Homo sapiens: one gene and its partners. The protein of the gene in region 1 interacts with the protein of each later gene in a pairwise test. Each region holds a gene or a part of one and is shown in the gene's direction. Other genes may lie near its edges. The genes, in order: OPRM1, TMBIM6, SLC38A7 and CD302.

Region 1 (7,284 bases):
TTATTTATAATAATTCTTCTTGCTAATTTCTAGGCCACATACAACAGGATATAAAAAGCCAAACAACAAAGGATAAATTCTTTCATATGTGTGTAATCCTATAAACCCTCTTTGAAGTTGATTCTCATATTTTTATTTTACAGAAAAGGAAACCAAATATCAGGAAGTATAAGTAATTTAGTAAGTCACAAGGAAGTAAATAGTTGAGACTGGATTTTGAACTGCTTTTTTTTTAATCAAAAGTCCGGGGCTTTCATCCACTTTATTCTAGATGGCTTTGTTTTAGGTTTATTGGGTAGAAGTTGGTGTGAGGAGTTTTTTGCTTTCATTTACTTATTTATTTTTTTACCATGCAAATAAAGAGTGCCTATTCCATTTTACTTGATATGTATGCAACAATCCAGTGATCAAGGATAATATTGTATCACAATGCATTTGCATTCTCATTAGCTATGCCCATTTAAAAGTTAGATAACATAGAAAATATCTATAAACAAATACATAAAATGTTCCTCCAATGAAACCTTGGATGTCCCATTTTTCTGAGCTTCAAACCACTGTAATTGTTTCCTGCATAGTATTTATGTTTGTGTTCCTCATTAATAGCCATTAATCATGTGTTCCATTAACAGCCACTCTCAACAGAATCAGGACTAAGCTATTAAAGTAAGTGTAGGATGAAGGCAATTCTATGAATAACTAAGCCAATAGATGTTGAAATTCAAAGAAGAGAAGTGACTTTTAGCACTTTCCTGGGATTCATCCGTGCTATGAATAAATACGTTGCTTTGAAACAAATAATTTTTGTGAAAAATGTTGCATGATATGGGTTTGATAGCAATGTTCAATCTAAATGTATAGATAATAAATTATTCTTGCTTCGAATAGAAAGCCTGGGCTAAGCAAGAAGCATCAACAAAAAGACAGATATTTCTATTGTACAAATTACATATTAAGGCTCAATGAAATAAAAGATATATTTGGGATCAATACTGTATGAAATAATTATGTTTGTAATAAATTGACTCATTTATTTGCAGTCCATCTCCTTTTATGAGAGACTTGAACTTTCACAACAGACTTCAGACCAATTGAGTAGGAAATGAACAATTATGGAGGAAACAGGGAATATACCATAGGGAAACTCTGAAATAACAAAAACTTGAAATTGAGGTGCTTTTATACTACATATTAAGTGGTATTAATTTATTATTTCTGGAACAGTTTTTCTCTAGGTTTCTCAAGACTGTCAATATATTTGAAAGAAAATTAAATTTGTTCTGCAGCTTCCTGAATTGTATATTAAATGGGTGGAAGATACCAAGATATAAATGTTAAACAACTTAAGGAAGGACATGCAATGATAACCAGAATATTCTATATTCAAAATAGAAGGATAATAACTATCCTCACTGAAAGATGATAAAGACCAATAGAAAACAAAAAAATCAATCTCAGCTGAGAATATGAAGCACAAAGTTCAAGTCCTGCTCTAGAGAGTAATTGCATTTTTCTATAAAACAGAATAAAAAAACAACTGTTTCTAGAAAAGGGCAATGGGAATGGGGTTGCTCTTTGCCTGTAATTCTAGAAGAAAAGGCATATGGCTAGTCCATAAGTCTATACATTTAAGTCCTGGTTGGTTGACAGACTATATTGAGTCAAAAAGGACAAAACGTCTTCATTAAGGTTTTCCCATAAAGATGTTTTATTTTCAAACTGTGTCATTAAAAAAATCACCCAGATTGTTTTATTTTTATTTTATATTATTTATCACCCAGATTGCATATATTTTATGCCATTATCTGGGTATAATGGCATAAAATATATGCTAATCATTTTTTCAACTGAATTCAAATATTATGCACATTAATATTCATATATGTTTAATATAGAAAGAAACACAGAGAGTGAGGGAGGGAGTCCACTATGTATTAAGTACTGTGTTAGTGAGCAGACCTCCCTTAGGAACCTTATTACGGAGTACAAAGCTAGGAGAGTAAATAAAGTATATTAAAAAATGCATACAAAAGATGACAGAATCACCATTCCAAAAGATCTTGGTGGATAAGAATCATGAATTGGATCTAACAAGATGTAACTTAAAAGTAAAAAAATCTATAGTGTTGTACTGAGCTCCCTCCAAAGCAACTATAAATTTATAGGAGATGAAACATATGATTCACCAGGCATAAGAAGAAAGTTTCCGTAATCAAACACTATTGTATCCATCTTTTTAAACTCCAGCTCCTATCACAGCACCTGGTCCAAAGCAGATCTTTAGTATTTGTGGAACTGGCTTGGATTGTGTTTAGGAAATTTTGTCATTGGTAAACCTAAGGAGAGTCAAGAGAACAACGTGACCAAAAAATAAAACTAAAAAAAAAAAAAAGGGACTTTCATTGTACTGGTAGAAAGACAAAGTTTATAATCTGGCTTAGTTTCTTTTTTTGTTGTTGTTTGTTTTTTGGTCAGGGCAAATTTAGGTCATTATTTTTAACACTGGAACTGTAGTTTCAGAGCAGATAGACAAACTATAATGAGAATAGATGAACAGCAAGGCCACTGAAAGGACTCAGAACTACATCTTATAAGAAACAACTGAATGATGCTAATGTTTAACTTGCAAAAGAGAAAACTCAGTTGATTTCAAATATATGAAATATAGTGGTAAGGAGTTATCACTTATTAAGCAATTACTATTGCAATGTATACTCATTTAATCCTGCTAACAGACATATGAGGTGAATATTATTAGCCTACCCTCGCCTTTTTTAAGTAATGAGAAGACTGTCATCCTGTAGGGTAAAGTAACATGTCCAAACTCATACAGCTACAAAGTTACAAAGCTGATTTATAAAATGATTGACTCCAAGGTCAGGAATTATTATACTGTGTCTTGTCTTCCACATGAACTAAGCACAAAGGAACTGAATGCAGGCAGACAGATTTCAGCTCAATATAAGAGAATTGTTACATTAGTTCATGGAAGAATATGTTTTAAGGTATTTTTGTTAGTCTCTAGGAAATCTCTGTAACATTTTATTGTGTAAATTATATGCTTTAATGTAAGAGGATAAAAATAATAGTGAACATTGGCAAAATAGCCTATGATTAATAGAGTTTACCTATGAGTTATCTGTTTCTAAGATAAATGCCAAAAAATAATATTGGAATTAAATGTTCCTTTCAAGATCTTCCCTCCCTGCTCCCTGAAATTGCAGTGAATTTTTCAAGACCAACTGAGGACATGTATTTTCAATGTTTATGGTTAAAAGATATGTACATGCACAGATATATACATGTACAGAAATGAGAATTACTTCAGAATTGGTGTTAACTTTAGAAAAAAAAAGACCAAGAACTTACTCTTGGTATTTACAAATTTATTTCTAAAATAGAAGCACTCATGGACTTAGAAGTAAGGTATAAAATTCAAAAACGTATCCATGTTTCTCAAGGATCTTGTTGTAGGCCACTCTAATTCCATATATTATGTGGCTTTTCCTAGAATTTTTACACTAGAAAACAGACTGAATGCAAATTTTGTTTTGTTTTAACAACCTTCTTCTCAGAAGCATATGTCTATCGAGGAAGTCTTCAGATAAAAAAGATAAACAATTCCAAACAGGTCTATGAGATTTAAGATGTGAAAGATCAACATTATCTTTAGTTGACTTTACTGGATGCCACAACCTTCTGATTTCTGTAACCACTTCTTATGCCTCCTACCCACTGAAACAAAATCAGAGGCAAACAGAGCTTCACCCTAGAAATTGGGGAAAATGAGGAACAGGTTTTCTGCACAAAAGTTTATTTGTTTCTCATTTCTTTTTCAGAAAATAAAGGATCGCTGTTGTTCCCAACAGGTTTGTAGGGAAGAAAATTGGAGAAACATTATTACCTTTTCTTAGATGTTGGCAACGGAGGCAACAAGGACTGCAAAAGAAAATTGTGTGTCCCCCATTCCTAAATAATCAAAATTGGCAGTAGGGATGGAAGAGCATTGGGGTTTTAGGGCTGTTAGGGTTTCATCAAGCCAATGTATTCCCTGCCAGATTTTAAGGAGAAAAAGGCGCTGGAAAATTGAGTGATGTTAGCCCCCTTTCTTATTTTTCACTGCTACCAAAGACTAACTCTATCTCTCTCCCCAACCCTTCTCTCCATCTCCCTCCTTTAGATGTGTTTGCACAGAAGAGTGCCCAGTGAAGAGACCTACTCCTTGGATCGCTTTGCGCAAAATCCACCCCTTTTCCCTCCTCCCTCCCTTCCAGCCTCCGAATCCCGCATGGCCCACGCTCCCCTCCTGCAGCGGTGCGGGGCAGGTGATGAGCCTCTGTGAACTACTAAGGTGGGAGGGGGCTATACGCAGAGGAGAATGTCAGATGCTCAGCTCGGTCCCCTCCGCCTGACGCTCCTCTCTGTCTCAGCCAGGACTGGTTTCTGTAAGAAACAGCAGGAGCTGTGGCAGCGGCGAAAGGAAGCGGCTGAGGCGCTTGGAACCCGAAAAGTCTCGGTGCTCCTGGCTACCTCGCACAGCGGTGCCCGCCCGGCCGTCAGTACCATGGACAGCAGCGCTGCCCCCACGAACGCCAGCAATTGCACTGATGCCTTGGCGTACTCAAGTTGCTCCCCAGCACCCAGCCCCGGTTCCTGGGTCAACTTGTCCCACTTAGATGGCAACCTGTCCGACCCATGCGGTCCGAACCGCACCGACCTGGGCGGGAGAGACAGCCTGTGCCCTCCGACCGGCAGTCCCTCCATGATCACGGCCATCACGATCATGGCCCTCTACTCCATCGTGTGCGTGGTGGGGCTCTTCGGAAACTTCCTGGTCATGTATGTGATTGTCAGGTAAGGAAAGCGCCAGGGCTCCGAGCGGAGGGTTCAGCGGCTTAAGGGGGTACAAAGAGACACCTAACTCCCAAGGCTCAATGTTGGGCGGGAGGATGAAAGAGGGGAGGTAAACTGGGGGGACTCTGGAGGAGACCACGGACAGTGATTGTTATTTCTATGAGAAAACCTACTTTTCTGTTTTTTCTTCAACTGATAAAGAAAGAATTCAAAATTTCAGGAGCAGAGAAGTTGCTTTGGTAAAAGCTACAAATGTCTAGGGGTGGGGGGCGGAGGGAAGCTATAGCATAGACTTGGAGCGCTTCCTTATACTGAGCAAAGAGGGCTCTTGGCAGAGTCCTACACTCAGTCCCTCTGCAGGAGCTATGGAAAGAGTAAGTTGTGAATAATGGGAGAGAAATTCTAGTTAGCTTTCCCAAATTTGGTTGGGGCCGGTGTGTGTGTGTGTGGCGGGGGGAGCAGTCTCAAGTCTTCTCAATTGTTTTGAGATGGACCTTGGCAACTTTCCTACTCCTGCTGGTTTAGTACTTCCCTGTACCACAACCCCACCCTTTCTTCTCCCCTGCCATAGCAGCCCTTACCCAACTCTTCCTTTCATCCTGAGGCAACACTAGGTAGAGGAAGTTTTCCTAGCATCTCTCCATGACAGTTTTCCTCTGTTATAACAAACATGACAAATGTGTTGCCTAGACCAGTTTGCCGTTAGTAGCTTCAGATCGCCTAAGTCACAAACTGCATCTGGAATGGGTAGGTTGGTTCAGGAGAACCGCAGGACATGGCTGTATTTCATTGCCTTCACAAGTTGGAGCTAATTAGGAGTGACCAAAAGCATCATAATTCCACATTAGAAACTGCAGAAACTCTTATACAGGAAGTTGTGATGGGTGCTCTAGACAAAGTGTTCTTATCAAGTAAAATTAATTCAAAAGAGTTGTAGTCCACTTTCTGTTTACCCAGATGTTCCCGGTATATTTGGCAGAGTGTGGAAGCTCTCAGTATTGACTGAGATTGATATTGATTGTGTTGGTGTTGATGTGTATATTCAAATACTACATGTGAATGTGAAATGCCATATATCTGTTTTTGTTAAAGAAGATAAATATTTTAACACTTTAAAATAGTTCCTAATTCGAGGGTTTTTTTTTTTAACCAGGGGTATGTGTATATAGGGAACATGGCATTTTCATATTTAGTTACAATGTTTGTTTCACCTATTCAGCAAGTATTGCAGGTTTCAGCGGAGCTCTTAAATCATTTAAGAATTGCTCTCTCCAGTATGCTTTCATTACCCAGGTGCTGCAAATTGCTTATAAGCAATTCTTTCTACTCATCTGTCTGATTTCTTTAATTAATGATTTTTAAAGAGTAAAGCTAATTTCCCTGATCTTTTGATGAGGAATAAGATAAGTATTGTCTGTAAGAAAAGAGCACCATCTATTGAGAGGAAGGCTAACAACAGAAGGAAAAATGCAAGAAGATCGATGGAAGTATTTATTTTTAAAAACATTTACTTTAAGTAATTCAATACAATGATTCACATTGAAGATTAAAAACCAAGTTTAATTTTGCAGTTATGACAATAAAAGTTATAATTAAAGGCCTGTTTTGTGAAGGGAAAATATGTTTCTCATTTTTTCTAAAAGAAATTCATAGAATCATAAACTAATCAAGCTAGAAGGGACTCTAGAGATTATCTATGCTAAGTAAATAAACTGAGGCACAGAAAATGTAAATTATTTTCTCTAAGAACAGATAGTTCATTAATTCAGTGCCACTAAATCTCTCCTAGCTAACATATTTTTTTTTTTTATTGTGCTGGCAAATCATGATTTGAGTTAATTCGACTATTAGGTTGACAGAGTGGGTTGATATAGCAATAATAACTTGGGAATAACAAATTATCCCCAAATTCTATGTGAAATCCTGAAGGAAAAAAGCATGAAACAAAAATACCAAAGCATCTAGGAATCCTGCCATCTGAAACATAATATTTTATTCCCTTTTATTGCTTCTTGATATTTTCCTTCCTCATTTTTCTACCCTTTAGTTTATGCTTTGCAATACAGAGAGAGCCAATAGAGTGGCAACTGGCTGTGAAATGAGCAGATTGGTCTTATTCCAGTGTAGAAGAGGTTGCTGGTTGGGTGAGTTAGTTTTAAAGGCATTACCTCTGGCCTCTTGTTGACTTGGAGAAACATGGTGACGGTGCATCTTACTGAGAACATGTTATTATGCTTTATTCTCGGTACTGAAAGTTCTTACAAAATGCAGTACTATTTGAAAGGTCATCCCAAACACCCACCTGTGGCAGGCTGGGTTTTAATCGCAGGGTTAGGTAACCCTCTTGGAATGTGACTGTGAAACAGAAAAATGGGCAAGTTAGTGACAGATGAAGCGACAGGGAAAGCATCTGGGGACTGAAGCAAGTAT
Region 2 (7,036 bases), on another chromosome or scaffold:
CTTTCTGCATAAATTCCTTTTTTATGGAGGTAGGAACCTCTCTTTTTTTAAAATTGTGAGTCCTTTTCAGTTCAGTTCTTAAATGTGTTAGGTTAAGAAAATTTGATACGCATATATTTAAAATGCAAGTCTTAATGCCAGACCCAGCTTTATAGTTTTTGTTTGTTTTGTTAAGACTAGTCAAAGTTTTGTTTTTTATCTTTGAGGTGCTGCTAGTGAGATAATTTTTTTTTTTTTTTTTTTTTTTGAGATGGACTCTTGCCCTGTTGCCCAGGCTGGAGTGCAGTGGCGTGTCTTGGCTCACTGCAGCCTCTGCCTCCCAGGTTCAAGCAATTCTTCTGTCTTAGGCTCCTGAGTAGCTGGGATTACAGGTGTGTGCCAACACACCCAGCTAATTTTTGTATTTTTAGTAGAGACAGGGTTTCACCATGTTGGCCAGGCTGGTCTCGAACTCCTGACCTCAGGTGATCCGCCCACCTCAGCCTCTCAGAAGTGCTGGGATTATAGGCCTCAGTGAGCCACTATGCCCAGCCAAGGGAATTCTTTAGCATCTTGAAACAATGACATAAAATTGCTTTATGTGCCAATGTCTAGGTTCCTTTAACTAGATTGTTAATTGAGAATTTCTTTTATAAACTTACTGCCTTTTAAAGTGGCAAATCACCTGAAAGAATAGAAATCAGATGATAGTAACAAAATAGTTTGAGGGAGAAGAAGATGCATTCAATTCCTCTGTCGTCTTTAAGATGGTTGACTATGATTGCAAATATATTGTAGGACACATAAAAATAAAAATGGTTGTGTTAGGGCTGTAGAATTTTAGGCAAGTTTTCATCTTTCTGAACTTACATGTTGCTTTTTTTTTTTTTTATAAGCTGTTCGTGTGATTCTGTATGACTTAATGACTCTAACCTTTCTTTATTCTGCAGAGTGGAGACTGCTGCACGGACTCTGGAACCATGAACATATTTGATCGAAAGATCAACTTTGATGCGCTTTTAAAATTTTCTCATATGTAAGTGTTTTGACCTTGACTGGTTTTGTACTGCATTTCTTTTCATATCTCTTTGTCCCTTTTCTGCATTTATAACTTTTGTGTGTATAAGCTAACAAATTAACTTGGCCAGAATCCAGAGGACCTGATGAAAATGTCCAAATTCTACACGTTGCTGTGTGGTTATTGGAAAGGCATTTATTCTAGTTTGGGTACTGATTATTCATAATTTTGGGCATTTGGTCTTCCTCAGCATTTAAGGTTCTGTTAACCTATTTTCAAAATATTATTTTTTATTGTAATATGCTTTCCTAAAAGTATTTCAAACTATTTGTAACAGAACTTTTACATATTCCCAGGAAGGGAAAGAGAGAAATGATTCTTCTTAGCTTAAATATGAGATTGATCTGGGACTGATTGCTCTTATTCACATTCTTTTCTTAGAACCCCGTCAACGCAGCAGCACCTGAAGAAGGTCTATGCAAGTTTTGCCCTTTGTATGTTTGTGGCGGCTGCAGGGGCCTATGTCCATATGGTCACTCATTTCATTCAGGTAAGAACGATTTTCTCTCCTGGTTGCTGTGGTACAAATTACATTAGGAAAAAACCAGCTCAGCAAGGTGGTCCAAGGGACCCTGTTCCTCTCTTTAATCTTTATCAGTAGTTTAGGATTTAAACTCAGACATTAAATCAGGACATGTAAAGCCATTTTAATTTTCTGGCAACTGTGCCCCCTCTAGATACCGAAAAACAGAATGCCTTAACCTTGGCACTGAATGGTGTGCTGCTGACGTACAAGACCCCCACCCACTGAGTAGGCGCATGGCATGCATGCTGGGATTCTTTGGCACAGAAGCTTTTTTATCTTTTCCTCCATTCTTCCTTTACAAAACTCTGATTGTGTGATTAACTATCAGGAGAGGCAGGATTGAGATCTTTTTAAGGAATTGACCTGTTTTATTTTCCGATAACTGTTGTCTGCATGGTTGGGTAAAAACCTTCAACAATTTGTTTTCCTGTATTGAGAGAGAATCTGGGTTTGGTCAGCAGGAGTAGAAGGTACAGTTTGAGGAATAACCAGAAAGTTTGAAGACTCCCTAACATAGTCTTGTGCCTTTGTAGAGTATTCCTTTTAGCATAAATGTAGAGGTGGGCCTCTGTTGGCATTTGCCACTGTTGAGAACTATCCTTATGTTCAGGCATCTCCTGGCAGGGATTGTGTGAAAAATTACTTTAGACACTCAAAGGATAGGGCTTTGATCGCTTGAGTTTTAGGCAAGGTTAGCCCTTAAATAATTTAGTAAAATACAGTCAATCCTTGTTATTCACAGACTCTATATTTGTGAATTCACCTACTCATTAAAATTTGTAACCCCAAAATCAATACTCATGGCACTTTTTTTTTTTTTTTTGAGACAGAGTCTCGCTCTGTTACTCATGGCACTTTTTGCAGACAGTCACAGAGTGGTGAAAAAGTTGAGTCACCCTGCTGTTGCAGTGTTTTCAGCTGAGGTTGAACAAGACAGTGCTCTGCCTTCTTGTTTCAGTTCTCGTATTGTAAACAAATGTTCTTTTCATGGTCATTTAGTGCCACTTCCTTTGTATTTTTGTGCTTTTAATTGGTGATTTTGCTGGGTTTTTTGAGTGGAGGTCTTGTGGTGTCGTCCTGACTGGTCTCAAACTCCTGGGCTCAATTGATCCTCGCACCTCAGCCTCCCAAGTAGCTGGGAATACAAGCACATGCCACCATGCTTGGCTTAATTTTGCTGTTCAGAATGCAAACAGCATAGTGCTGAAGTGCTGTCTAGTATTCCTGAGTGCAGAAAGACCGTAATGTGCCTTATGAAGAAAATGTGTATATTAGATAAGCTTCATTCCGGCATGAGTTGTACTGCTGTTGTAACTGTGAGTTCAATGTTAAGGAATCAAAAATAATGTCAAATGAGGTGTCCTTAAACAGAAACACATATAAAAGCAAGGTATCTATTGATCATTTGATGAAAATGTTGTGACCTTAGGCTTGCAGGAACCTACCTACCTTTTATTTCCCTCAGGAACAAGGGTTTACTAATTCATTGTCCACTGTGATTTTATAACATAAACACTGAATAATGAGAATCAACTTCTTCCTTTAAAGGAAGGAAGGAACTTCAGTGTCTACGTCCATCCTTAATGATTTCTCTTTTTTCTAATGCCTATAGTTTTTCCCACTTGGCGTTTTTAAAAAAAGAAACACTTTTTTCTTACTACAAAGCTAATATGTGTTCATTTTAGAAAATTCAGAAAACAGACTAGCAATGAGAAGGAAGTATTTTAGAAACTTCCATAATCCCATCATCCAGAAATAACTACTGTTAACATTTTAGTACTTTGCAGTCTTCTGTATATGTATGTGTCTTGGTGTTTTGGTGTTTGGGGGTTTTGTTTGTTGGTTTTTGTTTTTTTGAGACGGAGTTTCACTCTTGTTGCCCAGGCTGAAGTGCAATGGCGTGATCTTGGCTTACTGCAACCTCTGCCTCCCTGGGTTCAAGCAATTCTCTTGCCTCAGCCTCCTGAGTAGCTGGGATTACAGGCGTGTGCCACCATGCCTGGCTAATTTTGTATTTTTAGTAGAGACGGGGTTTCTCCATGTTGGTCAGGCTGGTCTCGAACTCCTGATCTCAGGTGATTTGCCCACCTCGGCCTCCCAAAGTGCTGGGATTACAGGCGTGAGCCACCATGTTTTTTTTAAAGTGACCAAAGGGGGATCATTTCTATTTGTTCTACAGATGGAATGTACTTTAAGCACTTGTCACGTTTCATTCATCCTTTCTATTTTTTGGGCAAGACTCACTCATAGTTTGACTTGGGTAGTTGTACTGTAGTTGAAGGACTACGCAAGCCAGAAGAGCCTCCAGCATCCACCATGGTCCTAACTCTGTGCTTCAAGGCTTCTGGGTTATCTCCTCAGCCCCATCCCTGAGAAAACACTACTTTTTCTCCTGCCTCCAGGTTATAAGCAAATGTTAGGAAGTTCAGACGAGTGTTTGAACCCAATAAAGGTCTCTTGCAAAATAAATTTGAAACTTTCAAGTGTTTAATGATTGATTGATTCTGACTCTAACAGGCTGGCCTGCTGTCTGCCTTGGGCTCCCTGATATTGATGATTTGGCTGATGGCAACACCTCATAGCCATGAAACTGAACAGAAAAGACTGGGACTTCTTGCTGGATTTGCATTCCTTACAGGTACGTTAAGGGATTTGTCTAATTTTGAGGGGTGAGCTATATTTTCAGTATCTCTTAATTAGTTCCCCCCCCTTTTTTTTTCTTTTTTTTTTTTTTGAGACAGAGTCTCGCTCTGTTGCCCAGGCCAGAGTGCAGTGGCTTGATCTTGGCTCACTGCAAGCTCCGCCTCCCAGGTTCACACCATTCTTCTGCTTTAGCCTCCCGTGTAGGTGGGACCACAGGCACCTGCCACCACACCCGGCTAATATTTTGCATTTTTAGTAGAGACGGGGTTTCATCGTGTTAGCCAGGATGGTCTTGATCTCCTGACCTCATGATCCGCCCGTCTCGGCCTCCTAAAATGCTAGGATTACAGGCATGAGCCACCGTGCCTGGCCCTTTTTTTCCTTTTTTTTTGAGACAGTGTCTCCGTCTGTCACCCAGGCTAGAGAGTGCAGTGGCGTGATCTTGGCTCACTGCAAACTCTGCCTTCCGGGTTCAAGCGATTCTCCTGCCTCAGCCTCCCAAATAGCTGGGATTACAGGCATGTGCCACCATGCCCGGCTAATTTTTGTATTTTTAGTAGAGATGGGGTTTTACCATGTTGGCCAGGATGGTGTTGATCTCTTGACCTAGTGATCCACCCACCTTAGCCTCCCAAAGTGTTAGGATGACAGGCGTGAGCCATAGTACCCTGCCTCCTGGCTTTTTTTTTTTTTTTTTTTTTTAAGATGGAGTCTCACCCTGTGGCCAGGCTGGAGTGCAGTGGCGAGATCTCAGCTCATTGCAATCTCTGCCTCCCAGGTTCAAGCGATTCCCCTTCCTCAGCCTCCCAAGTAGCTGGGACTACAGCGGCTAATTTTTTGTATTTTAGTAGAGACGGGGTTTCACCATGTTGGCCAGGATGGTCTTGATCTCCTGACCTCGTGATCTGCTCGCCTCAGCCTCCCAAAATGCTGGGATTACAGGCATGAGCCACCACACCCAGCGCTTTTTTTTGTTTTTTTGTTTTTTTTTTTGAGACTGAGTTTCACTCTTGTTGCCCAGGCTGGAGTGCAGTGGCACGATCTTGGCTCACTGCAGCCTCCACCTCCCAGGTTCAAGCGATTCTCCTGCCTCAGCCTCCCGAATAGCTGGGATTATAGGCATCAACCACCACGCCAGCTAATCTTTTGTATTTTTAGTAGAGATGGGCCACTATGTTGGCCAGGCTGGTCTCGAACTCCTGACCTCGTGATCCGCCCACCTCGGCCTCCCAAAGTGCTGGGATTACAGGCATGAGCCACTGCCCCTGGCCCTAATTTTGTATTTTAGTAGAGACGGGGTTTCACCATGTTGGTCAGACTGGTCTCGAACTCCTGACCTCAGGTAATCTACCTGCCTCAGCCTCCCAAAGTGCTGGGATTACAGACGTGAGCCACTGTGCCTGGCCTTCCTGGCCTGCTTTCTAATCTCATATAGGTTCATTTTGTTTCCCCATCCATTAGGGGAAACTCTGTGAGTAGCCACTGTGACTCTACTTTTGTGTCCAAAAATAGCCATTGTGTACTTGAATGAATGAGGTTCAAGAGCTTAGGTAGCATAACCTATTAATAGTAGGCATAGAACTTTTAATAAACTAGACTTGAGAATCCGACATAGTTGCACCCATACTGGCAATTATCATAGGAGCTTCTGTTCTGAGTCTTACAGACAGTGCATTAAAGCTATACATTGAGATCTATTGTGCAGGACACTTTGCTGATTCTCAAAAAAAGAAAGGCACAGCTCTTCTAGAATTGTCATAAAGGAAACAAGACTCAAGCTATGTAATAAAAATGTTTGCAAAACATTTGAATTAGAACAGCTTGTTCTGAGTGACAGTCTAATATACGTAGGAGAAATTTTAGAAAGGAAGAGATTTAGGGATTAAAATTTTTGCATCAGGGCAAGCTAGTTTTTGAAGGCATTAAGGGGTGGAATTATCAGAAGGAAAGAGGAAAGTAATTAGAACGAAAGAAATGTTAGAGCTGGAACAGGTTGCCCTCCTGTTGGCAGGTGTCCACCTGCAGAACCAGTCTCACCTTTCTTTGCTACAAAGGGGAGTCAGTCCTACATGACTATAAGGTTGCTGGCCACGAGGCACTGTTTTGCTCTTTATCCTTTTTTTCTAATTCCTGATCTGGCCTATATTACCATCTTACATCACTCTAGCTCTGAAATGTTTGGCATGCCTACTTTATTTTCTTGTAATCTCTGTACCCTCCCTGAGGTCATCCATGATTTTCAGCTAAGAGGACAATTTTGCAGCTATTTCTATAAAAAAAAAAAAAACAACGCAGTCAGGTATACATTTTATTGAAAACAATTACAGCGGAGGGGAGAGAGATTTAATTCTTTAGTCCACGTTTGTTAAGAGCATGAGTATGCCTATATTTCGGGATCAGCTTTTGGATGAGGATCCTATTCAAGAATTGATCGTAATACTGTGTTCTGGGTTTTCTGTTTTCTAGGAGTTGGCCTGGGCCCTGCCCTGGAGTTTTGTATTGCTGTCAACCCCAGGTAACTCTTTTGGTAGTGTCTTATGTGCTTTTATCTTTATGAATATACCTTCTAAATGTAGACCGTATACCTGTAGCCCTTAATCTAATGGTCTTTTTTTCTAACAGCATCCTTCCCACTGCTTTCATGGGCACGGCAATGATCTTTACCTGCTTCACCCTCAGTGCACTCTATGCCAGGCGCCGTAGCTACCTCTTTCTGGGAGGTAAGTGTGAACTGGGAAACAGGGAATGGGGGCTCCTTTTTAGCCAGAATTCTCACTAGTACTCCTTCCTTACCCCTAACTCCTTTGCGA
Region 3 (3,198 bases), on another chromosome or scaffold:
ACGTGCTTTTTTCTGAACATCTTTCCATCAGGATGCCTACATTCGAATCGTGGCATGATGTGAACAATCAGTTACTCCCATTAGATCTTGGTCTTCTTACCTATGGACTAGGGACAATACACCTGGCCCCACACTACCTTTGTATTGAAGTCTTTGGGAAGTAGGAAGTGCTCTACCAACAGGAGAAGTGCGATAATTACAGTAATTAACAGTTATATATATTGAAGTCTGCAGTCATGGGATGGGATGACTGATCAGACCTCTCTCACCCTCTGTTCTACAGCTGGTGGGTGCTGGTCAGCTACGGAGTCCTCTTGGTCACCCTGGGAGCCTTCATCTTCGGCCAGACCACAGCCAACGCCATCTTTGTGGATCTCTTGGCATAACCACTGCCTCCCAGGGAACACAAGGCCTTTGCCATTGGTCGCAGGAACCCATCTCTTAGAGCTATGGGGCCATTCTTAGTCCACGATCATTCCAACTGGTGGGATGACATCCGGACATCCTCTTCCAGGGACTGGGGCAAACTCAGGCCCCACACCTCTGGACAGCTCAAATCCAGTCCCCTTCCTGCTCCCCAGTCCTGGCAGTGCCGTGGATGGCGGCAGGAAGTCTCACATCATAGAGGACCCCTCCTCCTCTCCCAGTTCTCAACTTCTCCATGCCTGGAATCCACGGGTGAAGAGAGTCGGTAGATCTCATAAGAAAGAATCCAGTCTGACTTCCCTCTGGAGAATGACTATGGACAGAAGGCCACCATCCTCCACAGAGCACCCTGTCCTGAGTAGGGGTTGTGCTCATTACCCCAGGCCAGTGGTAGCTTCCTCAGGAGCCTGGCCACTTCCAACGGTAGCACTGAAGTCATGCAAATGCATAGTCAGGTAGATTCAGACCTTGTCCACACCTTCCTGGGCAACCCCCACCATGAACCTGTCAGCCTCTTTCCCATAGCTAATAGACATTTCCCAGGCCTTGAGGGGCCCCACCCTGTCTCTTTCATCAAACCTGATGGTCCAGGCTGGGCATCCCTCTCCTCCTCCATCCCCAGACATCACCAGGTCTAATGTTTACAAACGGTGCCAGCCCGGCTCTGAAGCCAAGGGCCGTCCCGTGCCACGGTGCTGTGAGTATTCCTCCGTTAGCTTTCCCCATAAGGTTGGGAGTATCTGCTTTTGTGTCTGAGATGGGCCCCTCTTTTCAGAGGCCGCAGGGTGGGTGATGGAGAAGGCTGAGAACCTTTCAGACCCTCTGTGTGGGCTGGGCTGGTCAGAATCAGGGTGTACCTCCCCGACACCTTCTTTTTCAGTGATGTTTTCTCTTCTTCCTGCCTTTCCTCTGCCTCCTCCCCTGCCAGCCCTAGCGTGACTACCCAGAGACAAAAAAAAAAAAAAAAAAAAAAGGCAGGGCTGGGCGCAGTGGCTCACGCCTGTAATCCCAGCACTTTGGGAGGCCAAGGCGGGCAGATGACTTGAGGTCAGGAGTTCGAGACCAGCCTGGCCAACACGGCAAAACCCCATCTCTACTAAAAATACAAAAAATTAACCGGGCATGGTGGCGGGCACCTGTAATCCCAGCTACTTGGGAGGCTGAGGCAGCAGAGCCGCTTAAACCCAGGAGGCAGAGACTGCAATGAGCTGAGATCGTGCCATTGCACTCCAGCTTGGGCAACAAGAGTGAAACTTCATCTCAAAAAAACAGAAACAAACAAAAAGGCAGCTGGGTTGTCACTGATGGGCAGCATTTGAGCCTGCCACACTGGCCTGGAAGTTTCCCTTCCAGTCTGGATTTTGTCTGCTCCTTCCTTCCCCCTCACCCCGTTACCTCTTCACCTCCCATCTCACTTCACTGTGTAGCTCAGTCTCTCCCACGCACATAATTGGGGACAGTGGGGGCTCTCTTACCAGCCTCCTCAGCAACGCACGTCCATCAGGCCTGGCCTCAGTGGCCAGCCACATTGATGTCACACTGGAATTGTTACCCCAGAGAGGGCGAAGAGATAGGCTATCTCCCCACCTCCCACCCTACTCCCCACTATATTCCCGTTTTGACCACCTCAGCCCCTCAGCTGCCCCCTCTCACTTTGGCCAATCCCAGGCACCAATCAGACTTCCTCCTCCACCTGGAGCCCCTAGCATTTCCTTGTCCCCTCTTCCCCAAAACCTCTGTAAAGGGTACGAGAGGGACCCCCTGCCGAGCCGCCCGCCACTCAGGGCAGTCCGATCTAAGAAGCAGAAGCTGGTTGGAGGCTGGCTGGGCCTCTGTCCAGTCCCCAGATGGATAAACTGCCTTTTCTCACATCCCCTCTTGGTGCCTGATCTTCTCTGCCCCCGGGGCCAGACCCACTGTGCTGTTTTCTGTCAGTCTGTGGCACAGCACCAAGCTCTGCCAGCACCAGTCCCTGACAGGGCTAGGAGGACAGCCTGGTCAGCAGGGCTGCAGTCCCCCAGTGCCGTGTTTCGGGGGTCAAGGGATGTAAGTGGAGTCATTGCACAGAGACAGACCAGTCAGGAGAAGGAGCTGGAATCTGGCCTCTTGTCCTAACCTCAGGAGCCCCCTCCCATCCTCTCCCCACCCTCCCTATCGGGGTACTTCACTGTTTCTTTTCTACTTGTGTATACTCGAGAAAGGGAAGATGGTTAATAAAAGGGATTTGTGCTGCTGAGCCGTGTCCCCTGTGTCTGATCCTGGGGACAGAGTCCAGGCCACTGCCAGGAGGAAGAAGGGCTGGGGTAGGAGGTGTAGATGGCATGTCACTGTCTCTGACCCCTATCTCCGGAATGGCACCGCCATGCTCCCTCTACCAAGCAGGGACCTGCAAGTGGCTCTTGCCACCCCTGCTTTCTTCCACATTCTACCTATCCTTCTCCAGTGACTTAGGAATGTATCGCAGTCTCCAATCCTGCGACCTCTGCCTTCACTTAAGCCCTCACTGTCTTTCCTGTGCCTTTGTGGTCTCAGACTGTCCCCCTGACTTCAGATCTTGGCAAGAGCTTTAAACTCCTGAGTATCCACCCCCATCTTTTCAGAGGCGAGCGTTGAGCAGGTCCCAGCTGTCTTGGTTATGGAGCCACCAGTCACCACGCTCAGTGCTGGCAAGAAAACCAGCAAAGGCCAGGTGTAGTGGCTCACGTCTGTAATCCCAGCACTTTGGGAGAACAGGGTGGGCAGATCACCTGAGGTCAGAAGTGCGAGACAAGT
Region 4 (7,513 bases), on another chromosome or scaffold:
TCCGAGGTGGGTGGATCACCTGAGGTCAGGAGTTTGAGACCAGCCTGGCCAAATGGTGAAACCCCATCTCTACTAAAAATACAAAAAAAAAAAAAAAAAAAAAAAAAAATTAGCCCGGTGTGGTGGTGCATGCTTGTAATCCCAGCTACTTGGGAAGCTGAGGCGGGAGACTCTCTTGAACCCAGGAGGCAGAGGCTGCAGTGAGCTGAGATCGTACCATTGCATTCCAGCCTGGGTGACAGAGCAAGACTCTGTCTCAAAAAAAAAAAAAAAAAAAAAAAAAAAATTGAAAGGGAAATTAGGAGATGAGGAACATGAGATTTCGAGAAGTATGATGGAGACAGAAAGGAAAGGGGCTGGGCCATAGCCAGAGGGGAAAGAAGGGTTGAAAAAGGGTTTTTTTCTAAAGGGGAGAGAAAGAGGTTCACAAGTTTAGAAGCTGAGATGAAAAAAACAAAAACAAAAACAAAAATAATGGACAGAGAGAAGTTGATGATGCAGTGGGGAGAGGGAATCATTAATGGAAGATCTTGGAGAAGATAAAATGAGAGGGGCAGTCCTAAGCAGAAAGAGGAACTGGTTTGGGTGGGCTGGAGAAGCATGCCTTCCTCTCTGAGACCACAAGAGAAGAACTGCAGATAAGCATTTGAAGATGTTTGTCTATATGTAATGGCACCTGTTTTCTTGTGTACTAGAAGGCAAGGTCTGCTGAGAAAGATGGGTAGCAGATGGGGTCTTTTAAAAAGTTTTTTAATTTTTTAGAGACAGGGTCTGTCTCAGTTGCCCAGGCTGGAATGCAGTGGTGCAACTCTAGCTCACTGCAGTCTCGACCTCCAACATTAACTTTTTTTTTTCCCTAGAGACAGGTGATTTCAATGTTACCTAGGCTGCTCTCAAACTCCTGGGCTCAAGTGATCCTCCCACTTCAGCCTCCCAAGTGTTGGGATTACAGGTGTGAGCCACCATACCCAGCCTGGGATCTTAGCTTGAAAAGAGTAATAAATTTGAAAGACTCAATGAGAGAAATAGGAGAGGACAGTGACTAAGGTAAAATCAAATACAAGGATTGCAGAAGAGGCATAGAAGGCCCAGATGAAATTAAAAGCCATATTGTTTATAGTGACAGCCATCGGGAGAACTGATTGATTTCCTCCACCTGTCCTCAGTTAACTTCAGTAAAGTTGAGGAAAAAGAGAGCACGGGCCAGGCGAGGTGGCTCATGCCTGTAATCCCAGCACTTTGGGAGGCCAAGGCGGGCAGATCACTTGAGGTCAGGAGTTCAAGACCAGCCTGGCCAACATGGTGAAACCCCACCTCTACTAAAAATAGAAAAAACTTAGCCAGGTGTGGTGATACACGCCTGTAATCCTAGCTACTCGGGAGGCTGAGGCAGGAGAATTGCTTGAACCTATAAAGTGGAGGTTGAGGTGAGCTGAGATAGCGCGACTGCACTCCAGCCTGGGGGACAGAGTGAGACTCCGTCTAAAAAAAAAAAAAAGCATGAAGAAGAAAGCGGAGACCACAGATTCCGAGTTGGCCAGGTGAGCACACCAGGGGAACAAGGGGACAGAGGATGTGGTATTTCGGCTGGGTGGAGAAGGGAGAAATAAAAGGCTGAGAAAAATGCAGGCAAGGGACTGAAGTCTGGCATGAGCCAAAAGAGGATGTAAGTTGGAGACAGAGTGAAGGAAAATTAAGGGTATGAGGTGTAACTGGAGAGTAAATGGGAGAGCGAAATATAACAGTACCCACATACAGGCAATAAGTAGTCTATTTCATCAGATTAGCATCAAAAATGAGGCAGTGTGCACCAGAGTTAACAATAAAATAATATAATTTTCTTTAGTACAAATGACTTAAAATGACAGTGTTAAAATGGGTTTTGCCTTAATTAGATTGATTCATTAGGATGTCAATTCTATTGTAAATATAAAAATATTTGAAAAGTAGCTTAACACAAAACCACATTGATAAAATATACTTTGGTGCCTGAGGTGGGGGTGGAAGAGATAACTTTCACAATTACATGATTGCTTAGAACTGTTCATTTTACTTCTGTAGTTAGGAGGGCAAAAGGGTCCAGAATCAAGATGTGTCAATATTCCAATATAGAGTATCTTTGGAAGGATTTGCTCTGGTCTGGAGTTTGGTATATAATAAACTCAGTATTGGCAGCCTGAGAAGAAAAATGGAAGTAAATAAGTTAAGCAAGACCTTAATACTTTGGCAAAGGGGCAGAACCTGGAATAGGTGGGAGAGTCCAGCAGAGGAGCTGGGCTCTGGTTCATTTGTTGGCATTCTCTGTGAGCCCACGGGGGAATCACATCCCTTCTTTGGGTCACTCAATTTCCTTACTAGTACCACTTCTAACACTCTATGACTCTCCTTATAGACCCCTTGGGTCAAATTTCCTTGGTGTAACCACTCTGGATTATCAGAAGTGTGGAAAGGGTTAGAAAGAGTTGGAAAGGGTCAGATTTTATTTTTTTAAAAATAGACTAATTTTTGAGCAGTTTTAGATGTATACAAAAAATGTAGCAGAAGGTACAGAGCTCCCATGTACCTCCTTACACATACCCCAGTTTCCCCAATTATTAACATCTTGCATTAGCAGGTACATTTGTTACAGTGGATGAGCCAATATTGACACATTATTAACTAAAGTCCATTGTCCACACTAGGGTTCATCTTCGTTTTGTGCATTCTATGGGTTTTGACACATGTATAGTGATACACATCTACCATTACAGTATCCTACAGAATAATTTCATGGCTCTAAAAATCCTCTGTGTTCCATCTATTCATCCCCTCCTTCTTCCCACCCCAACCCCTGGCAACCATTTATCTTTTTACTGTCTCCATAGTTTTGCCTTGTCTAAAATGTCATATAGTTGGAATCATATAGTATGCAGTCTTTTCAGATTGGCTTCTTTCTCTTAGCAATACATATTTAAAGTTCTTCCATGTCTTTTTGTGGCTTGATAGCTCATTTAATTTTGGTACTGAGTAACATTTCATTGTTTGGATGTGCCATTGTTTATCCATTCACTTATTGAAGGACATCTTGTTTGCCTCTAGGTTCTGGCAATTATGAATAAAGCTGCTATCAACATTCATGTGCAGGTTTTTGTGTGTATGTAAGTTTTTAACTCATTTGGATAAATACCAAGGAGTTGTGATTGCTAGATGGTATGGTAAGAGTACGTTTAGTTTTGGAAGAAGCTTCCAAATTGTCTTCCAAAGTGGCTGTACCATTTTGCATTTGCACCAGCATTGAATGAGAGTTCTTTTTGCTCCACATCTTTGCCAGCATGTGGTCTTGTCAGTGTTTTTGGATTCTGGTATCTAATAGGTATGTAGTGGTATTTCATTTTTGTTTTCATATACAATTCAGCAATGACATATGATGTTGAGCATCTTTTCATCTATTTGCCATTATATAACTTCTTTGATGACGTGTGTATTCAGATCATCTGACCATTTTTTTTAACTGGGTCATTTGTTTTCACGTTGTTGAGTTTAGACTTGATTTTATAGAACTCTTTTGCCAATGACATGAGGCTTAAACAAGCACCCTTGCTTGACCCTGGCTAGTGTTGTCCAGAGGCCCTCATGGGTGAAGTATAATTGCACAGTTTATGCATACATTGTAGCAAACATAGCTTAAAGACTCTTCATCCAGGAGCTGGTAACAGAGAAAAGTTGTCTAAGAGACATAGTCCACTGAAAGGGGTCTTTGAAAAGGAGGATTCTGGCCAGTAGATCCAAAGAAGAAGGCTGGCAAACGCCACCTTAACCAACTGATCCAAGTTAACATCAGTGATGAGACATCGACATCTTGTCCTTCTCGAGCACGTACATCACTTCTGGGGAACTCTTTCCCAAAAAAGCGCAACCTGAATCCAATTAGAAGGAAATGTCAGACAAAATGAAACTGAGGGACATTCTACAAAACGACTGGCCAGTACTTTTTAAATGTGGTTTGATCGTGAAAGAAAAAGAATGACAGAGAACCGTCCTAGATTAAAGGGAGACTAAGGAGACACGACATGCAATGTATGATCCTGGATTGAATCTTGGAACAGAAAAGGACCCTTAGAGGGGCAATTAATGAAATGTGGTAAGTGCTGTAGATTAGCTAATCGCATTATCCCAGTGCGAGTGCCCTGTGTTTGATCACTGCACTGGCGTTATATACAATGTCAATATTTAGAGAAGCTGGCTGAAGGGTTACGGAAATCTCTTGTGCTGTTTTTGCAACATTTTCGAAAGTCCTAAATTATTTCAATTCAAATGAAAAGTTTAAAAAACAAAAATTAGAAGTTCCAGAAGGCCGCGCGCCAGCCGCTCCTGCGGGACGGGACACCCGGGTTCTCCTGGTGGGAGCCCCCAGTGCCGTTCACGTTCCGCCCGGGGGGGGGATTAAACTCGCACGCGAGAAGCACCGCCCCCGCTCCCGCCCCGCCCCGCTCCTCTCCGGCCGCGCAGCCGCTGCCGCCCACCCGCACCCGCCGTCATGCTCCGGGCCGCGCTGCCCGCGCTCCTGCTGCCGTTGCTGGGCCTCGCCGCTGCTGCCGTCGCGGGTAAGCCCTTACGTAGTCCCTCGCCGGGACCGTGCGCGACCGCCTTCGCCCCCTTCCCAACGCACGCTCTTCGTCCCCGCGCACCCGAGGGCGGCCCGCAGACGCAACACCCGGCCGGCCATCCCGCCCTTCCCTGCACGCCCGTCCCCCGTGGGTCCTGGCTCCGGGTCACCTCTCACCCGCCTGCCCTCGGGGAGGGGAGGTGGCCGAGAATAAGGGAGGGCTCTGTCTTCCTCGGAGTCCACATCCTCACCGCAGACCCCACTCCGCGGGGAGGGAACCCCCAAATTAGGCCAGTTGGCCGGAGAACTGAGGGACTTGGAGTCGCACGACGGGCGCCGTTTCAGGGCAATTTCGGGCTGAAATGAGAAGCGGGGACGTTGGTGGCGATTTCCCCTGCTGGTGCGCGGCCGGAGTGGGGTTGCTGGGATGGGGGTGGGGGCCGGAGGAAGTAGGCCCTCTTTTGCAAGCAGCGCTGTTTGTCTAGTTGGTTGGTGTTCAAGTTGTTTAAACAGGAAAACAGTTCAGCCAAATAACCCCTGGATGGAAGAGGAACGGGAATAGGCAAAGCTTGGATTTCACTGAAATCAAGGAGTTTTAAAGTTCTAGTCTGCTGTTGTGCAAGTGACATCTGAAAAATCACACACGTGATCATTCATTTACAAAACGACTCGTGAGGAAAATGCACAATTCTATTGACCGTGGTCTTTATTTTTAAAAAATTTCCATACAAGCATGTCAAAAATATGTGGATGGGGAGACTCTGGAGAACACAGACTTCCAAAAACACCACTGACTGAATAATTCCAGGAATTAAAGAGCAAAATAAACAAGAACTAAATGAGTACTTGTGTGGGCTTAAATAAAGTGCAAGAGATTTAAATAAAATGCAAGAGATTCCCCCCCCCCACCCCTTGCCCCAGATTTCACTGCGTTTTTATAATAACTGCCTGCTCGAAGTCTACTGACAGGAATATTTCAGTGGACCTCAGTGTTGGAGGCAGCAGCAGCTCAGAACTTGGATACAAACCCAAGGTTCCTTTCTTGAAAACTTCTGTGGACCTGCATTTATGACTGGTTGTGACATCTGCTGCCTATCAAAGGGGCAGAAACAAGATGTGCCCATGTTCACATTGTTCAGACTGGGAACATTAATTTTGTCTAAGACAAAGCTGGGCTGTCTCTGAACCCTCCTTCTGCACACCCTCATTTTGCGAGCCAGTAACATCTCAACTCTCATGTAAACCACCCTCTGCGAGGCTGTGCATTTGTACTTTAGGCTAGTCGAATTTTCTTGTCAGATTTTTCTTTCTTGTCAGACTTTTAAAGAAAATCAGTTTCTAGATTTTGGTATGTCTCTTCTTCAGTGAAGCTGTTTTGACCAGCAATAGAGGGCAAATTTCCCTTTGGAAATTTTTGTGCATTTCCTTTGATAAGTCCAGTGTGGATCAATAGGCTTTTCAAGAGCTTTAGAAAAGTGCATGATGAATAAATTAATGTTAATTAATCAGCTCCTCCCAGTCAGGAAGCTTTAAGGATTAATTTGGAAATGAGTGTGAGCTTTGACCTAGCTAGTTAACCAACTTATCTGCACTTCAGTAAAACAGAGATAATACTTACTCATGGGGCTATTGGGAGCATTAAGTGGGAACTCCACGTCTAGTCCCTATTACAGGCGTGGTTCATCTTGGTTTCCTTCCCTTTATTCTCTTCATACAAAATGAAGGGTAATTGTTGCAACCAGAAAACGTATGAATACCACCTTATGTATATTGGATGTTTATGGTTACTGAACACATTCATATGTATGCTAATGTTATAGGGCTGAAAAACTAAGTGTGTTTTTCATAATACTTTACAAATCTCCCATCCAAGCAAGATCAGGGGTCATATTTGGCTTAGAACTAAGTCAAGAAAGAGTTTGTTGCTGAATACCAAGATCTTAATAGAAAAGCTCTTATGATGTTGCATAATAAATATGGGTATTGCATATAAATGTGATGTTGAAACGGAAATCATTGTTATTGTCTGTCATTCTGGAGGTTATTAGTGAAGTGATCTTAACCTTGTTCTTAGCTATTATTTTGAAAATCACAGTGGACAAAACATTCTTTAAATTCCTGAGTGAAAATCCATGGCATCGCTTTAAAAAGTTTTTCCGTAAGGGTGCTTAAGCACATAATAGATGATCAGTATGTATTTATTTGGTCAGTGGTTTCCTATGCCTGGCATGAGCTGAGTGAACAAGCATGTTCCGAGTAAGTCCTCATTCTGTGATCATCATGTGGATCAGAATCTAGGGATTTTGAATTGCCATGTCCTACAAGCCTTAGATGAGGTGCCTCTGCCTTCTTCCCTGATGTCATCTCTTACCACCCTTCCTGCCATTCACTCTGTGTATCCACAGAGTAAACAGTATCTGGGTACTCCAACACCTCTGGTCCTTCTGTGCACACCACCTTCCCCCAGTCCTTGGCATGGCTGCCCCCACCTCCACCATTCAGATCTCTGTTCATATGTCACCTTCTCCGAAGCCTCCCTGAACACCCACATTCTCTGTCACATGTCCATGTTTTATCTTTTCCAAGCCTTTCTGAATGCATTGTGTTTATTCATCTGTCTTGCTTGTTGCTTCTCTTACCAGGGGAAAGAAGCTCCATAACAGAGATTTTACCATCTTGTGGATTTTTGTTTTGTTTTGATTTGTGTCTCTGCACTTTATTCTAAGTTATAATAAAAGGATGAAAAAATTTAGGTGAGTTATTTAAAAAGTAGGTAGGATAAGTGGATTGCAATTTTTTTCAAATTATATTACCTCTGCTATGCACTCATTTCATAATGAATTCAAAGCCTTAAATCATCTTAATCTATTGCTGCCACCTTTTCTTTCTTTCTTTTTTTTTTTTTCCGAGATGGAGTCTCACTCTGTC

The links.
Region 2: the proteins of OPRM1 (region 1) and TMBIM6 interact in binary tests that used the Homo sapiens proteins (3 or more experiments, as listed by UniProt).
Region 3: the proteins of OPRM1 (region 1) and SLC38A7 interact in binary tests that used the Homo sapiens proteins (3 or more experiments, as listed by UniProt).
Region 4: the proteins of OPRM1 (region 1) and CD302 interact in binary tests that used the Homo sapiens proteins (3 or more experiments, as listed by UniProt).

The regions. Positions count from the first base shown.
Region 1 is NC_000006.12:154,034,981-154,042,264, forward strand, and holds the start of OPRM1 (mu-type opioid receptor), read left to right. Parts: upstream 1-4,325; 5' UTR 4,326-4,378; coding exon of another isoform or gene 4,379-4,564; coding exon 4,565-4,854; intron 4,855-7,284. UniProt on the Homo sapiens protein: Receptor for endogenous opioids such as beta-endorphin and endomorphin. Receptor for natural and synthetic opioids including morphine, heroin, DAMGO, fentanyl, etorphine, buprenorphin and methadone.
Region 2 is NC_000012.12:49,751,535-49,758,570, forward strand, and holds part of TMBIM6 (bax inhibitor 1), read left to right. Parts: intron 1-929; coding exon of another isoform or gene 930-959; coding exon 960-1,015; intron 1,016-1,438; coding exon 1,439-1,547; intron 1,548-4,100; coding exon 4,101-4,221; intron 4,222-6,692; coding exon 6,693-6,741; intron 6,742-6,848; coding exon 6,849-6,946; intron 6,947-7,036. UniProt on the Homo sapiens protein: Endoplasmic reticulum (ER)-resident protein that confers cellular protection as an anti-apoptotic protein by limiting multiple stress-inducing pathways surrounding the endoplasmic reticulum and mitochondria.
Region 3 is NC_000016.10:58,664,573-58,667,770, reverse strand, and holds the end of SLC38A7 (sodium-coupled neutral amino acid transporter 7), read left to right. Parts: intron 1-283; coding exon 284-386; coding exon of another isoform or gene 387-465; 3' UTR 466-2,662; downstream 2,663-3,198. UniProt on the Homo sapiens protein: Symporter that selectively cotransports sodium ions and amino acids, such as L-glutamine and L-asparagine from the lysosome into the cytoplasm and may participates in mTORC1 activation. The transport activity requires an acidic lysosomal lumen.
Region 4 is NC_000002.12:159,795,202-159,802,714, reverse strand, and holds the start of CD302 (CD302 antigen isoform 1 precursor), read left to right. Parts: upstream 1-4,506; 5' UTR 4,507-4,516; coding exon 4,517-4,583; intron 4,584-4,762; exon of another isoform or gene 4,763-7,513.